2 separate regions of the Homo sapiens genome follow, and region 1 is linked to region 2. The links come from fine-mapping of genetic effects on gene expression. Tissue or cell type: prefrontal cortex. Region 2 holds a variant in brackets; the other region holds the start of a gene. All regions are shown on one strand. Distances are between the middles of the regions.

Region 1 (7,885 bases), 220 kb before region 2:
AGTACTGCCTTTAACATCCGATGCTCTATTTATCATCAATATCTTATCACTTGCCTCTTTTCAGGATTATGGAGTTGTCTTCTGACTTACCGATTTACCTCGGTGATTTTTTTTTTTGGTAAATTTTTAAGAAATATATTATGATAAGTTAAGAACCTGAAAAGTCAATTTAAATCAAAGGCTGACATTTTTTTTCTTTCTTTCACATTCAAGTCACAAAAAATACACTTAATTTTAACAACTCTTATATATTTCTACTCTTCTTAAGACTGATGTAGTGTATGTTTCATTGAAAAATTTCACCAATAACCAATGTGTTTCAAAAATCTATTATCATGTAATCTGTGACAGAAGAGAAATCTAGCAGTGGCTTCTTTTTGGGAAAAACAAACACTGTCTGGAAGGTCATCACATCTGCTTAAAAAATTTTAAAGATTTTCAGGCCACTCATTTATTATTTGTTTTCAGGTTATAATACATGCCTATTATAGAAAGTTTAAGACTATAGAAAAATATAAAGAAGAAAAATGTAAACAGTCAGTAATTCCACTACCAGTAAGGCCACCTGTTATTTCGGTGAAACTTCAAATTTTTGTGAAGCCTTACTCTAGCAACCTCCTACTTTTCTAAGTCCTCCTCCTCAATAGACTGTTCAGGACATTCAGAGTGGAAGACTGACTTTGAATACAGGGGTCCTTCGGATTTTTATGGAAGGGATGGAACTGTAGGAAAAACCTACAAATTGCTCCAGAGATGACATCTTGTTCTTATTTAGCCTTCTTTGAGTCATTAACAGTCGGGCGCCACTGGTGCTGAAACTTATCATTATTATAACCACAAATGGGTTAATGCCCAAACAAAGCTATATTCTTGGGGCTGGTTCCCAGCTCCACCACACAGACCCCAGCAGCCAGCACCCGCCAAGTCCCAGGATAATGCTCCACAAATAAGACGATGTCAAATGTTCAGCCTGGACTCAACATTATCTTCTTCTATCTGGGAGCTTCCAGTTGCTAGCAGGGCAGAGCAAAAGGAAAAATAAATAAATAAAAGCCAGGTCAACAAACCCTAAAAAAAGAGACTGTGTGGTTTAGTGGTCAGACCACTGGCCTGGATGTTGGGATAGCTGAGATCCAGTTGTAGCTCTACCACTATGTGGCTGCATGATGCTAGACAAGTCACTAGACAAGTCACTGTTGTGACTTGTGCCTCAGTTTCCCTAGTTAGAAAATGGAAAAGTGCCTTAGAAAGGTTTTTTTTTTTTTTTTTTTTTTTTTTTTGAGACGGAGTCTCGCTGTGTCGCCCAGGCTGGAGTGCAGTGGTGCGATCTTGGCTCACTGCAACTTCTGCCTCCCCGGTTCAAGTGATTCTTCTGCCTCAGCCTCCTGAGTAGCTGGGATTACAGGCGTGCGCCACCACGCCTGGCTAATTTTTGTATTTTTAGTAGAGATGGGGTTTCTCCATATTGGCCAGGCTGGTCTCGAACTCCTGAACTCGTGATCCGCCCACCTCAGCAGAAAGTTTTTATGAGGACAAATAAGATTATTTGCAAATAGCTACAAGTTGCTTGGGAATAAAGTAAAATTATCACTTAATAATTACTATGGTATTACCTTATTAATAAAATAGTAAAAAGCCACAGTTATGGAACATATGAACCTCCCATAACCTCAAGCTAGATGGGGGAAGCAGATAAGAAGGCAATTAAAAAAAAATCAGATTTGCTGGACTTCACACCAAATACCAAATTAGTAAATTTGCCTCAAGACACTAAGCCCTGCTCCTACTTTGGCTCTGTCCTTTTAACCTCACCACATCCAAACTTAGAGTGACTCACAGGAGCCTAGAATTGAGACACATATACAATTTTAAGGGAAAGCAAGAATTAGGAGGTTTGAGGCTCCTTACTGGAGGACGCTAAGAATAGGCCACTCGGAACACAAAGAGAAGAACCTCCTCTTTCCTTTTCCTCCCAGTGTAGGTGGTCTACTGGTTTCCCAGTCATTCCTTTGATAGCTTGATTTTGTTTTCTTTGTCTCTTTTTCACAAACCTCACCTTGTTGGAGGGGGAGGGCACTAAAAAAGTGAGGACAGAGTGGCTTTTTCTGCTATGTCTGAACTGTGTCTAGTGCTACAGATCTCTGACCTGTTGTCAGGAGTGGAGAGGGGCGAAAAGAAATATTTAGGAACTTGAAAACCAGTGAATATTCTCTTAAAGAAGAAGTGAGCAATTGGGCATATAGGGAAAAAAATCTAACTGGTGTCCTCGTTTCTGCAGCCCCTCTCCCTCAAGAAGAGCAATGTCTTGGTAGGAAAAAGGAAAGACACCTGGGAAAGGTACCAAATAGTAAGGGCTAGGAATAGAAAGAAGAACCAAAGATAAAAAGGAATTGAGCCTGGGCGCGGTGGCTCACGCCTGTAATCCCAGCACTTTGGGAGGCCTGAGGCAGGCGGATCACCTGAGGTCGGCGGATCACCTGAGGTCAAGAGTTTGCAGACCAGCCTCGCCAACATGGTGAAACCCCATCTCTACTAAAAACACAAAAAATTAGCCAGGCGGAGTGGCGGGCGCCTGTAATCCCAGCTACTTGGGAGGCTGAGGCAGGAGAATCGCTTGAACCCGGGAGGCGCTGGTTGCAATGAACCGAGATCACGCTACTGCACTCCAGCCTGGGCGACTGAGTGAGAATTGAGAAGAAATGGCAATTAGTTCAGAGGACTTAATGAGTACCTTTTGTGTGTCCAGCCGTCATAGGCAGAAAAGACACATCTCTGACCTCTAGAAGCATCCAGGGTATATGCATACGTAAGCACTTTGTAGCAATTTAAGATAGTAAATACCAAAGAGATAAAAATAGCTAATGGGATACTAAGTGTTTATGGGGGCCAAAGGGCGGGGGCTATTACTGAGTTAGGATAAACAGTGTATAAAAGCAGGGATAGTTATGAAATTCAGAAACTGCGTATATGGGCGGCTGACAGTAATTCTTCGACACTGGGAAACATAACGGATTCAAAAGAATTCTTCATCTCAGATTCCTCTAAAACCAAGTCTTCAAGAATGGGAGTCCAAAGAAACCTGGACCATCGTGAAGCGACTGCCCCCGGAACTTGAGTGGCCAGCTCCACTTTGCGACACGGAGACTGTTTGTGTGACACCTCCTCCAGCTCCCGTCCCCCTTCCGCCGCGTGGGTGCCATGGCAACGGAGAGAGACGGCAACCTGGGTTCCGGAAGCCGGAGAGCTGGAGCTTTGAAGCCACCCCGGTCAAAGGATGCTGAGTCCGGAGCGCCTAGCCCTACCGGACTACGAGTATCTGGGTAGGAACCCCCTTTAACTTTGGGGAGGGAAAGACGTGCAGACGAATTAGGCCAGGGTCTGGGAGGAGGCGGGGGCGGGGTCTGAGTGGGATCGGGTCCGGGTGGTATGGGGAGGGGCGGAGAGGCGGGGGTTCCAGGGCCTGAGCCTGTAAGGCCGAGCAGGAAGGAAAAAAGCACCTGGGAAGTAAAGAATGTTTGAAGTGTAGGGGCTGGAACTCAGGCAATGTGGATTGTGTTCAAATGGGTCAGGTTGGCGTTGAGGATTTGGGGCCCTGTTGGGGTATTATTGATATGCTGGTAGTGGAGTAAGAATAACCTTGGAACCTCAAGTGCCAAATCAGTCAGCGAACATTTCGAGCTTTTCTTTTTCATTAGGCACTGTGCTAAGCATTTTTCATGCATCATTCTTCATTTGAATTTCTCAACAGCCCTAGGAGGAATTACCGTGTTTTCTTCCAGTTTTGCAGGTGGAGAAACTGGGGCTGAAGAGGTAACTTGCGTTAAGTTAGGCCACACAGCTAGAAAATGGTAGCGCTAGGATCAGAACCGGATTTGCCCACTCCAACAGAACTTGAGATATTGACTTGGCTCTTGAGCTAAGACTGTATATGTAGTACTTTGTTGAGCATCTTTAGTGTATAAGGCATTTAATGAATGAAAAAAGGCACACACACGCATAGATATGTACACACACACACATATGCACACAATACACATTTTATTTTATTTTATTTTTGAGACGGAGTCTAGCTCTGTCGCCCGGGCTGGAGTGCAGTGGCGCGATCTTGGCTCACTGCAAGCTCCGCCTCCCGGGTAGCTGGGACTACAGGCGCCCGCCACCTCGCCCGGCTACTTTTTTGTATACTTAATAGAGACGGGGTTTCACCGTGTTAACCAGGATGGTCTCGATCTCCTGACCTCGTGATCTGCCCGCCTCAGCCTCCAAAAGTGCTTGGATTACAGGCGTGAGCCACCGCGCCCGGCCACAATACACATTTTAAATAATTCATAGACTTTTATTTTTTTAAAGACGTTTTGTTTTGTTTTGTTTTGTTTTTTGAGACAGAGTTTCTCTCCTGTTGCCCAGGCTGGAGTACACTGCAACCTCTGCCTCCCGGATTCAAGCGATTCTCCTGCCTCAGCCTCCCGAGTAGTTGAGATTACAGGCATGCGCCACCACGCCAGGTTAATTTTATATTTTTAGTAGAGACGGGGTTTCACCATGTTGGTCAGGCTGGTCTCAAACTCCTGACCTCAGGTGATCCGCCCACCTCGGCCTCCCAAAGTGTTGGGATTACAGGCGTGAGCCACTGCACATGGCGAGAAGTTTTAAGTTTACAGAAAATTGAGCAGATAGTACGGCGAGTTCCCATATACCTTGGGTCTCCCTCACTCACAGTTTCCGCTATTATTTACATCTTGCATTAGTGTGGTACATTTGTTACAATGGATAAACATATATATTTATAATATATAATAATATATTATATATTATTATTATTATATAGATATATTATTATAGATACATATTATTAACTAAAGTCCATAGTTTACATTAGGGTTCTTTGTGTTGTTCAGTTCTGTGGGTTTTGATAAATGCATGTCATGTATTCACCATTCCATTATCATACAGAATAGTTTCACTGTCCTGAAAAATCCCCTGTGCTCCACCTATTGATCCTTCTCCCTCCCCCTGCAGCCCTTGCCAACCACTGATCTTATGGTCTCTAAAGTTTTGCCTTTTCCAGAATATCATGTAGTTGGAGTCATACAGTGTGTAAATTTTTCAGATGGGCTTCTTTAACTTAGCAGTAAGCATTTAAGTTTCCTCCATGTCTTTCTGTGGCATGATAACTCATTTCTTTTTATTTCTGAATAATATTCCATTGTATGGATGTACCATGCACATCTTTTTTTTTTTTCTTCTTCTTTTTTTTTTTTTTTGAGACAATGTCTGGCACTGTCACTCAGGCTGGAGTGCAGTGGCACTATCACGGCTCACTGCAGCCTCAACCTCCGGGCTCAAGTGATCCTGCTACCTCAGCCTTCCAAGTAGCTGGGACTACAGGCACATGCCACCATCCCTGGTTAATTTTTTAATTTTTTGTAGAGAAAGAGTCTCACTATGTTGTCCAGGTTGGTCTTGAACTCCAGGGCTCAAGCAAGCCTCTTACTGTGGCCTTCCAAAGTACTGAGATTACAGGTGTGAGTCACTGCACCTGGCTTACATCTTTTTTTTTTTTTTTTTTTTTTTTTGAGATGGAGTTTCACTCTTGTTGCCTAGGCTGGAGTGCAATGATGCGATCTGGGCTCACCCCAACCTCCGCCTCCTGGGTTCAAGTGATTCTCCTGCCTCAGCCTCCCTAGTACCTGGGATTACAGGCATGCGCCACCACGCCTGGCTAATTTTGTATTTTTAGTAGAGATGGGTTTCTCCATGTTGGTCAGGCTGGTCTCAAACTCCTGACCTCAGGTGATCCACCCACCTCGGCCTCCCAAACTGCTTGGATTACAGGCGTGAGCCACCGCGCCCAGCCAACATCTTTTTAAATGAAAAACAATTCTGGTTTACATTTTGTTTAACTTATTTTAAAAATTAATTTTAAAATATTTTTTAAGGTTGGTAATATGGAAACTTGATTCAAAGTATTTTTTAGGCCTGGCATGGTGGCTCATGCCTGTAATCCCAATACTTTGGGAGGCTGACGTAGGAGGATTGCTTGAGGTCAGGAGTTCAAGACCAGACTGGATGATAGAGTGAGACCCTGCCTCTAAAATGCATAGATAGATAGATAGATAGATAGATAGATAGATAGATAGATAGGTAGATGTTTTTAGTGAAAAGCCTACCCCTTTGCCTCCATCTGCCCAGTTTCCATCCATCCTCAGCCTCCCAAAAGTAACCACTATTATTGTTTTCCTGTGTATCTTTCCAGAGTTTATTATATACATAAAGGAGTATACAGTGCATACTTTTTCATTTAATACATCTTGAAGTAATTTCCGTTTCTTTTGTTTTTTCTTTTCTTTCTTTCTTGAGACAGAGTCTCACTCTGTCACCCAGGCTGGAGTGCAGTGGCACCATCTCGGCTCACTGCAACCTCCACTTCCTGGGTTCAAGCCATTCTCCTGCCCCAGCCTCTCAAGTAGCTGGAACTGCAGGCACGAGCCACCACACCTGGCTAAGTTTTTGTATTTTGGGTAGAGATAGGGTTTCTCCATGTTGCCCAGGCTGCTTTTGAACTTCCTGAGCTCAAGCGATCTGCCCACCTTGGCTTCCCAAAGTCCTGGGATTATAGGCGTGAGCCACTGCGCCTGGCCTCGAAGTAATTTCTCAGTCAGTAGGGAGCTTCTTCGTTCTTCATGAAATTCATTTTTAGCTATATAGTATTTAAATAATTTATTTAACCAGTCCCGCACTGGTAAACAAGTTGTTTTTAGCCTTTTGCTGTTACTAAGAATGCTGCAATGAATAACCTGCAGTTTTGTTCCTTTGCAAGTGTATCTGCAAGAATAAGTTCCACAAAGTGGAATTGGTGGATTAAGGGCATATGCATTGAAGTACTTATAGATATTGTCAGATTGCCCTTAATAGGTGTTGTACCATTTTGCCACCAGCAATGAAAGAGAATGCCTGTTTCCCCATTGTGCTGACAACAAAATACATCAAACTTGGATTTTTTTCAATCTAAGTGACAGATAGTCTGAGTAGATTTAATATGCATTTTTAAATGAAGTTGAGTGCCTTTTTACCAAGTTTAAGGGCTGATTGGTCTTTGAAAGCTATATATATACACATATATACATGAACATATATATAGACATATATATAGAGAGAGAGCTTAAGACAGTGACCACATCCATTAATCAGCTAAAAGGGGATATCACAGACAATTTTGTATCTAATGAATAACAGTATCAATGTCAAGCAATGCCTAGACTTTTTTCCAAAGATTTTATGTATTTTATTACCCAGTACTCAATGAATATATGAAATATTTGAAAAGGCTAGTTCATTGTTCAGTTCCTTGGGTGTTTGCTGTTTGAATTTTATGTCTCAAAGGCTTGGCAGATTTGGTGTATTGGTGCCTTGGTGAATAGAAGTTGGTGGTCTCTTCATAAATGGCGTTTTCAGGAAGGCCAATTCAGTGGCAGTGTTGAGAATGAATCTACAAACAGAATCAGAGTCTCAGGTTGGTTGAAAAAGCTTCAATGTTTGTGAAGCCCAACCAATCACCTAATAATTGAATCCTATACAAATGCTTCTTCATGCTTTGTTGCATATTTAAGTGTCTTAATTCCTTGTCCTAACCACTAACTAGACATTCATACTGCCCTCAGCATGGTCACACCCCTCACTGCCTTCTCCTGGTTCATCAAACCGTATCACTCTGCTGAAATGCGTTTGTCTTTAGTTGAGAACTATCCCTGCCTTTTACAATTTGTCTCTCTTAGAGGCATGCTGCTTTGACCTATTCACCCTCAATTTTTTTTTTCTTTTTTCTTGAGACGGAGTCTCGCTCTGTCACCCAGGCTGGAGTGCAATGATGTGATCTTGGCTCACT
Region 2 (7,885 bases):
AGGAACGGGCATGCAGCCCCCAGCCCCCCAGCCCCAGGGGGTCGGACTGCTGGCTGCGGAACAGAGCTCCGCAGGATGTTCTGCGCGGCCCAGGCATTCTAGGGCCCTTGCTGGTCATAATGTAACAGTGCCATTTGCCCCCAAACCAGTTGTTGACTGAAAGGCTCTCAATTAGCTCACTTCAAAAGGACTGCTTTCACTCAGGCAAGACCACTGTAGTTGACCAATTTACTGGGTGACAGACTGGCCTTAACATTTTAGAGAGAAGGAAAGAGTACTCCTTGTATAAAACTTTTCTACACAAAGAGAGGGGTAAGCTGTCCTGTGTGGCACAAGTACCCTTAGGGACTGAGCAACAGGTTTGGTTTCCCGTAGCCATTTCCCACCCCCACTCCCCACCCCGGTGAAAGCACCAGTTAGTGAACATGCCAGCCCCTCCTGACCATAGTGAAGGCCTGATCCCCCAGGGCCTTGGGGCTCCCAAGGCAGGTCCCTGGCTTGGCTGTGGGTATCCTCATGAACCTGAAAGTATGGATGCAGAGGTGGCCCTGAGGCTGGCTAGGCTCTGAATGTGGCATCTCTCCTTCTTAGCTGCCCACCCCCAGCACTTGTCAAAGAGGCCCTCAGCAATGTTCAGAGACTGACCTTCTATGGATTCCTCATGGCTCTCTCAAAGCACCGTGGAATCAACCAAGCCCTCGGTAAGTCAGAGCTAAGCAGCCGTCAGCCTCTCCTGCCGCACAACACAGGGAGCAGCTGGCCTCTGTTAGCAACACGGCTCCAGAGGGGAAGGGGCATCACCATCTCTGCCTTGACTTCCCAGGGCCGGACTCAATCCCAGGGAGCAGGAATATGGCGACAAAACATGGCTCTTACACATTCCCATGGTAGGGGACAGCCCTCCCTGCCTGCAGCCCTGCCCCAACATGAAACCACCTCCCCATAGCAGAAGCGCCCAGCCCCTCCTCAGAGAACCCCAGCTCTGCTTTGGGGAGCAGCCTGCAGGTCGGGCAGACACAGGACTATTTACTCAGTGACGCTAGAGATTATATATCAAAGAGACCTGAATCCCATTTATAAACAAGGCACAGGTGTGTCTGCGGAGACCTTTTTTCCAAGCTGAAAAAAAAAATCTGATTAATCTGAAAGGGAGAAAAACAAAAGTAGGGGAAGTCTGCAGTGGCCCAGTTTTTCCTGCCTGCTGTTTTTTTTCACTGAGCCTTCTCCACCCACCCCACTGTTCCTCCTCCCACAGCCACTGCTCTCCTAAGAGAAGAGCCAGTAAGCCTCCATTCTACTACAGTTTAAGGTTTTTTGTTTTTTGTTTTATTTTGGGACAGAGTCTCGCTCTGTTGCCCAGGCTGGAGTGCTGTGTACAATCTCAGCTCACTGCAGCCTCGACCTCCCGGGCTCAAGTGATGCTCTCACCTCAGCCTCCCTAGTAGCTGGGACTACAGGCATGCGCCACCATCCTGGAAAATTTTTGTGTTTTTTGTACAGACTGGGTTTCACCATGTTGCCCAGGCTGGTTTCAAACTCCTGGGCTCAAGGGATCCCCTCACCTTGCTCTCCCAAAGTACTGGGATTACAGTTGTGAGCCACTACGCCCAGCAAGGAGTTCTTTTTTGTGTCTCGAGAGATCCTCCTGCTGTGCTTGGGATCCCAGGTGCCTGAGTCTCAAGGAAAAGACACACAGCATCCCCCTTCCTTTTGCCAGTTGAGGGAATGGGATTAAGGGAAGGAAAGTTAACATTCACTAAATGCCAACCACAGCAGGCTAAGTACTGTGCTGGATGCTTTATATTTTTTATCTTACACAATATACAGTTAGCCAGGGATGCTCTGGGATACACAAGCACAAACCCCAGCAGGCTGAACTGCATGCCACCCACAGCCTGGTTATTCTGAGTCAGTGCTTGGGGCATGCACAGGTCTGGGGAGCCCTCAACTGAAGTTGGTAGCCAAGGTTACCCACTGGACTAAGACTAGAAAGGAGGCAATTGACAGGCCAGGCGTGGTGCCTCACGCCTGTAATCCCAGCACTTTGGGAGGCTGAGGCAGGTGGATCACCTAAGGTCAGGAGTTCAAGACCAGCCTGACCAACATGGTGAAACCCCATCACTACTGAAAATACAAAAATTAGCTGGGTATAGTGGCCCGCACCTGTAATCCCAGCTACTCGGGAGGCTGAGGCATGAGAATCGGTTGAGCCCAGAAGGCGGAGGTTGCGGTGAGCCGAGATCACGCCATTGCACGCCAGCCTGTGCGACAGAGCAAGACAGTCTCAAAAAAGAAAAAAAAAACAAAAACAGGCGAGAGTCAGGAATCAAGAGTAAGGGGGAGGCGGGTGGGATCTGCCCTGGTGTTCTTTCATACTCCTCGTTATGACCACTCTTTCTTCCCACCAGTAGCAGCCACTAGGAAGGAGAAGCCAATTAGCAACTGGGTCACAGCCTGAAGTAACCTCATCCCCCTTTTCTAAGGGCCTTTAAAAAGGACACTGGCTGGGTGTGGTGGCTCACGCCTGTAATCCCAACACTTTGGGAGGCCGAGGCGGCGGATCACCTGAGGTCAGGAGTTCGAGACCAGCCTGGCCAACATGGAGAAACCCCGTCTCTACTGAAAATACAAAATTAGCCAGTTGTGGTGGCACATGCCTGTAATTCCTGCTACTGGGGAGGCTGAGACAGAAGAATCACTTGAACCAGGGAGGCGGAGGTTGCAGTGAGCCAAGATCGCATCATTGCATTTCAGCCTGGACAACAAGAGCGAAACTCCATCAAATAAATAAACACTAATAGCCAGACATGGTGGCTCCACCTGTAATCCCAGCATTTGGGGAGGCTAAAGCAAGAGGATTGCTTGAGCCCAGGAGTTAATGACCAGCCTGGGCAATATAGGGAGAACCCCGTCTCTTTAGAAAAAAAACAAAAATTAGCTGGGTGTGGTGGCATGTACCATTGGTCTCAGCTACGCAGGAGGCTGAGGTGGGAAGATCGCTTGGGCATGGGAGGTCGAGGCTGCAGTGAGCCATGATCACTGCACTCCAGCCTGGGTGACAAAGCAAAACTCTGTCTCAAAAAAAAAAAAAAAAAAAAAGTCACTCTCATTCAACCACTTTTACTGCACACTAACATTGGGTGGTTGGATGGAATGGGAGACAGAAAGAAGCATGTGGTCTCAGGCCTCACCTGCATCTCCAGCGTATGAAATAGAAATCCGGAGATACACTGGTTGACGCGTCACGGAGGTCAGCCCTGTTCCCTTAGTCCCCAGGGCACCCCACAAATGAGAGGGTTCTATGAGATGTACTTTGAAAACCACTAACTTAGGGCAAGAGGGGCCAGGAGGCATCATCTGAAAAAGATTTGGAAAAAGGGGAAATCTGCCTGTGCCGGGTTAATTCTGGCCCTGACCCAGCCTTCTCCTCTTGCCCCTGGGATCCTCCTTGGAGAAGCAGAGGCAGCATTTTTTTTTTAACCATCTGTCTCCAAAGTGGGGTCATCCTGATTTAGGGACACAAAATTAGGTAATGTCTGACCTTTGGGCTTAGCCTGGACCATATCCTTTTCAGCCCAGTACCTGAGGCCTCAAGAAGGAACTCAACTCCCAGCACCAGGTCACAACCACCACCTGGTGTTGGAAGGGGATCACCACACTCCTTGGCTGTGGTGTCTGCCCCAGGCAGGGAAAGTAGGCAGTGGGATTCAATAAATGTATCAAGCAACAGCGAGCACCTTCCTGCTCCGTGACTGTTCTTGGCCCCTCTAGCAGTCCTCAGATCTTTAGATCGGCCCTCGCAGGGTCAGCAGAACAGGCAGCCGTGAAGGTGAGGGGCATGGAGGAATCTGTTGCCTGGCTGAAGGGCCCTCAGATTAACTACTGTGCCCCCAATGATCTCCTAGGAGCTTTGCCTGACAAGGGGGATCTGATGCACGACCCAGCAATGGATGAAGAGCTGGAACGGCTGTAAGTGTCAAGTGGGAGGATACTGCCCCCTTGTGGGGGCCAGACGGGTCGGACACGGCTGTGCCCCATCTGGGGCCAACACCACTTGTCTGTAACATCCCACATCTGCCAGGGAAGGGTCTGGGGGCCAGTGGAGGCCTGAGGTGTCCCTCCCTCTGAGTCCTTTGGGGGCTGCAGCCCAGGG[G/A]TTTACCCTAGTGTTAAGAGTGGGCATGGAGGCCCTGCTCTCTGTACAGGAGGCCTCTCGCTGCCCTCCAGGCTTCTTCCCTTCTTCAGGCTGGCCCAGGTCCCAGGCCTGGTCAACTCGGTCACAGCCAGTCCAGAGGCCAGTTGCCTGCCTTCCCGGACCCCTCCCCGGGTTGGCTCTCCCTGGAGACCTCTCCATCATTCCCGAAAAGTGGATGGAGAGAGTGATGGCTCCACTGAAGAGACAGACGAGTCGGAGACTTGAGGAGTCCAAAGGGTCCTGCCCACAGCGCCCTGTACCTGCTCCCACCCAGCCCTTGGTGTGCCCACCCAGCCTCCTCTCCAGCACCTTGCTGTGCTGCCCTCTGCTGCTGACAAGGTGAATAACAGCCCCAAGACCAGCCAGAGGGGCTCTGATGATCAGCCCAGCCAGTGGCCCCGGAAGGTGAATGGCCTGCTCTCCCTGGCCCTATCAGCCTGTGAACTTCACTTAGGCCCCAAGCTGACAGACTGTGCTGAGGCCACCTTGTCACGCCGTAGCCTGTTAGTCCTCCTAACCTCTTAAGAGCAGTCTCTTCTGAGCCAGCCTCTGCGGGTCCCCCAATAAGGTTCATCTCCTCACAGCAACTCCATTAAGGGGGAGAACCCGAATAGCCACGCAGGGCCTTGCACCATCAAGGGTGACACCTGCGACGCAAGTACCAGGAGGACATAACCGCTGTGGCCTGTTGGAGAACAGCCAGTAGCCTTGGTAATATGAAGGGTGGGCCAGAAGATGATTTCACTTGCAAAAACTGCTTCAAGTCTTGACCCCTTTGTGTCTAATAGCTAAACAAACATGTGAAACGAATAAAAAGTCCCTCATGTCTGGTAACTGGTGAGTCTAAAGCTCCTAGGCTGAGGGGAGAAGGGAGAGGGGGAGTTTGGGTTTTCGGTGCTTTTCTGGTAGGACTAGGAGGTAGGCCAGTGGCCCACTCAGACCTGGGGACCTGCCTCAGACAACGAGCAGAGGGGCCTAGCTTCGCACAAGAGCAACCTTCCAGAGGAAAAGTGCTCACAGCTGGAACGGCCTTCAGGAAACAGGTTCAGAGGGTTCAAGGCCAGGTTCCCATAACTTTAAAGACCGTGGCCATAAAGGGTTAATACTGCACAGCCTTCCAGCCAGGGTTTCAGTCAACATTTGCCAAGCACCTGCTTGGGGTTAGAACAGTGGGATGCAGCTGTGAAAGACAGACAGACACAGCCTGGGGCAGACACATCCCAGCCAAGACTGGAGGCAGGTAAGGACGAGTGTCTTCAACTTCTTTGGATTGAGGGCTGAAGGGGCGGGGTCCCCCAGAAAGCAAAACCCACCCAGAAGCCCAAGCAGAACAGGACTGCCTCCTCTGAAGGTGGATGTCACCACTACTAGGCATACACATTTCCTTGGGCTCATCCCTACCCAGAACGGATCATTACAGGAACTGCCTCCCAAACCCCTGCAGAGCTGAGGCCAAGACTAGGCATTCCAGCCCCGAAGCTGCTCCAGGATGCAGTGGCTCATTGCCTGTAATCCCAGCACTTTGGGAGGCCAAGGTGGGCCAACTGCTTGAGCCCAGGAGTTCAGGACCACCCTGGGAAACATAGTAGGACCCTATCTCTACAAAATAACCTTAGCCAGGCATGGTAGCTTGCACCTGTAGTCCCAGCTACTTGGGAGACCCGAGGTAGATCACTTGAACCCAGGAGGTTGAGGCTGCAGTGAGCCATGATCGTGCCACTGCACTCCCGTCTGAGTGACTGACAGAATGAGACCATCTTAAAAAAAAAAAAAAAAAAAAGCTCAGGCTGCGTGATGAGCTCTGTAGGCCCACAATGATGCACAGCCCATAAGAGACATGGTTCTCAAATCCTGGTGTCCTCAGAATCACAGGAAAGCCTACTGACGATGCAAATTACCAAGCTCCAGAGAGTCTAACTCTATCAACTTGGGATGGAGTCCAGAAATTCCAGATGATCCCAAAGCTGAATGAGTCCCAAACCTACACTCTGCAAATCCCTGGCTTACAGCCCCCTGGCTCCCTCTGCCCATCCTTTCTAATCATCCACTTCCCAGACCAGTGGTCTGTAACTACCGTGAGGACTCCTAAGGTGGCACAGAGATGTTTCAGAAGCCCCCAAGAGAAAGGGGTGGCCAAGCTAAGGATTTACACACAAACACACACCTTTTCTTCCCTAAATTTAAAGGGTCCCATTAACGTCTAAGAGTATGTGTGTGTATGTATATATATGTAATTTTTTCTTTTTTGAGACAGGGTCTCACTTTATCACCCAAGCTGGGGTGCAGTGGCGCGATCTAGTCTCACTGCAACCTCTGCCTCCCGGGTTCAAGTGACTTCTGCTTCAGCCTCCTGAGTAGCTAGGATTACAGGCATGCACCACACCGCCCCCACCCCGCTAATTTTGTATTTTTAGTAGAAATGGGGTCTCACCATGTTGGCCAGGCTGGTTTCAAACTCCTAGCCTCAAGTGATCCACCCGCCTCAGCCTCCCAAAGTGCTGGGATGACAGCCATGAGCCACTGTACCCGGCGTTAAATATTTCTTAAACTCCACTGAAACCCATCCCCAGTCAAGCCTACTGCCGTGACAAGGGGCAGGACTGCTGAGGTTGCTCGCTCGCCCTCAGCCAGCGAGTTAAAGGGCCAACTAATGCCAGCTCTTTCCTCTGCGTGCCACAGGGTGGTGAGGTCGAAGCTGCACCGGACCTCACGGCAGCACAGAGCCAAGGAGCCAGGGGCCTTTGGCTTTCAGAGAAGAGAGAAGCAGGAGGCCCTGGAGAGAGTGTCCTCAGCTTCGGTACCGACGCCCTACCATTACCGGTGGGAGCCCAGAGAGTGAGGCCAGGGGCCGGCACTGGGCAGGGAGGCAGGATCCAGAGGACACTGCTTCACTCAGACCAACAGGGAGCCAGGCCCTGCAGGGGCTTTATTTTGACACCACTTTGTTTCAATACAAACAGTCCAGAAAGAAAGTCAAGTCCCTCTGGGGGAGGGGCAAGGGGAAGAGTGGTCTGTGTTGCTTGGGAGCCCAACCTACAACCCAAAGGTGGGGGCTGGGCTGAGACTGCCGGTGCGGCAGGGGAAGATGGCACCAAGAATGACAGTGCTTGGCTCAGCTGCCAGAGGGTGAGGCCCACAGCTCTCACTGGCGGGTGCTGTCCAGGCCAAGCCCAGAATGATGCAGAGGAAGGAGCTCAGCCCCAGGAGCCTGCCTCTGCCTCTCACATCCTCTGCTTCCCTGGCCAGCATCAAGCTCACAGCATCCAGAGTCGAATCACAGCAGACAAGACCCTCCATGGCCACCAACCCGGGGAAGAAGGGATAAAGAATGTCACAGAGGGTCCTGCATTCCACAGCAGATGGTACAGAGGGACCCTGAGACACCCTGAAACAATCTTCCAAGTGCTTACTGTAGAAAGGGGTGGTGAGACGGGAGAACCCAAGGGTCTCCGGTCTGATCCCAAATGAAACCTTTAGGTACCAGGTAAAGTTTCCAGCCCTTGGTAACGCCCAGACAAAGGTCCTTCCCCTCTCCTGGCACCCAGAAGAGGCCACTGGCAGCAGCAGCAGCAGCAAGTCCGCAGCCTCTTTCCCCATGGGACGGGTCTACAGTGAACTCCTTCCAGGCCTCCCCCTGGTTCCAGAGGATGGGGACCCAAGGCCTCGAACTAGAAGAACCCTAGAGCCAGCAAA

Which allele goes with the higher level. Alleles are on the strand shown, and positions count from the first base shown. SD is a standard deviation of normalised expression in the study named.
For the expression in prefrontal cortex of the gene that starts at base 3,230 in region 1, A is the high allele of the variant in region 2 and G is the other (small effect, 0.40 SD a copy in CommonMind).

Evidence for each region. PIP is the estimated chance that this variant, and not a neighbour inherited with it, causes the effect.
Region 1: it holds the start of CSTPP1, and the variant in region 2 is fine-mapped to the expression of CSTPP1 in prefrontal cortex (CommonMind, PIP 0.95).

Annotation. Positions count from the first base shown.
Region 1 is chr11:46,933,532-46,941,416 of GRCh38, forward strand. CSTPP1 (centriolar satellite-associated tubulin polyglutamylase complex regulator 1) reads left to right here and starts at 3,230. Exons shown (of 9, transcript NM_024113.5): 1 at 3,230-3,320. The coding sequence starts at 3,275. RefSeq lists an enhancer at 3,088-3,297.
Region 2 is chr11:47,157,222-47,165,106 of GRCh38, forward strand. CSTPP1 (centriolar satellite-associated tubulin polyglutamylase complex regulator 1) reads left to right here. Exons shown (of 9, transcript NM_024113.5): 7 at 592-701; 8 at 3,906-3,969; 9 at 4,243-5,026. The coding sequence ends at 4,417. It overlaps ARFGAP2 (ARF GTPase activating protein 2), which reads right to left. Exons shown (of 16, transcript NM_032389.6): 16 at 7,080-7,885. Among named protein-coding and RNA genes, the nearest start is that of ARFGAP2, 16 kb to the right of the region's middle. RefSeq lists silencers at 3,837-4,131, 3,882-4,048. The variant G/A (reference allele first, on the strand shown) is at 4,154.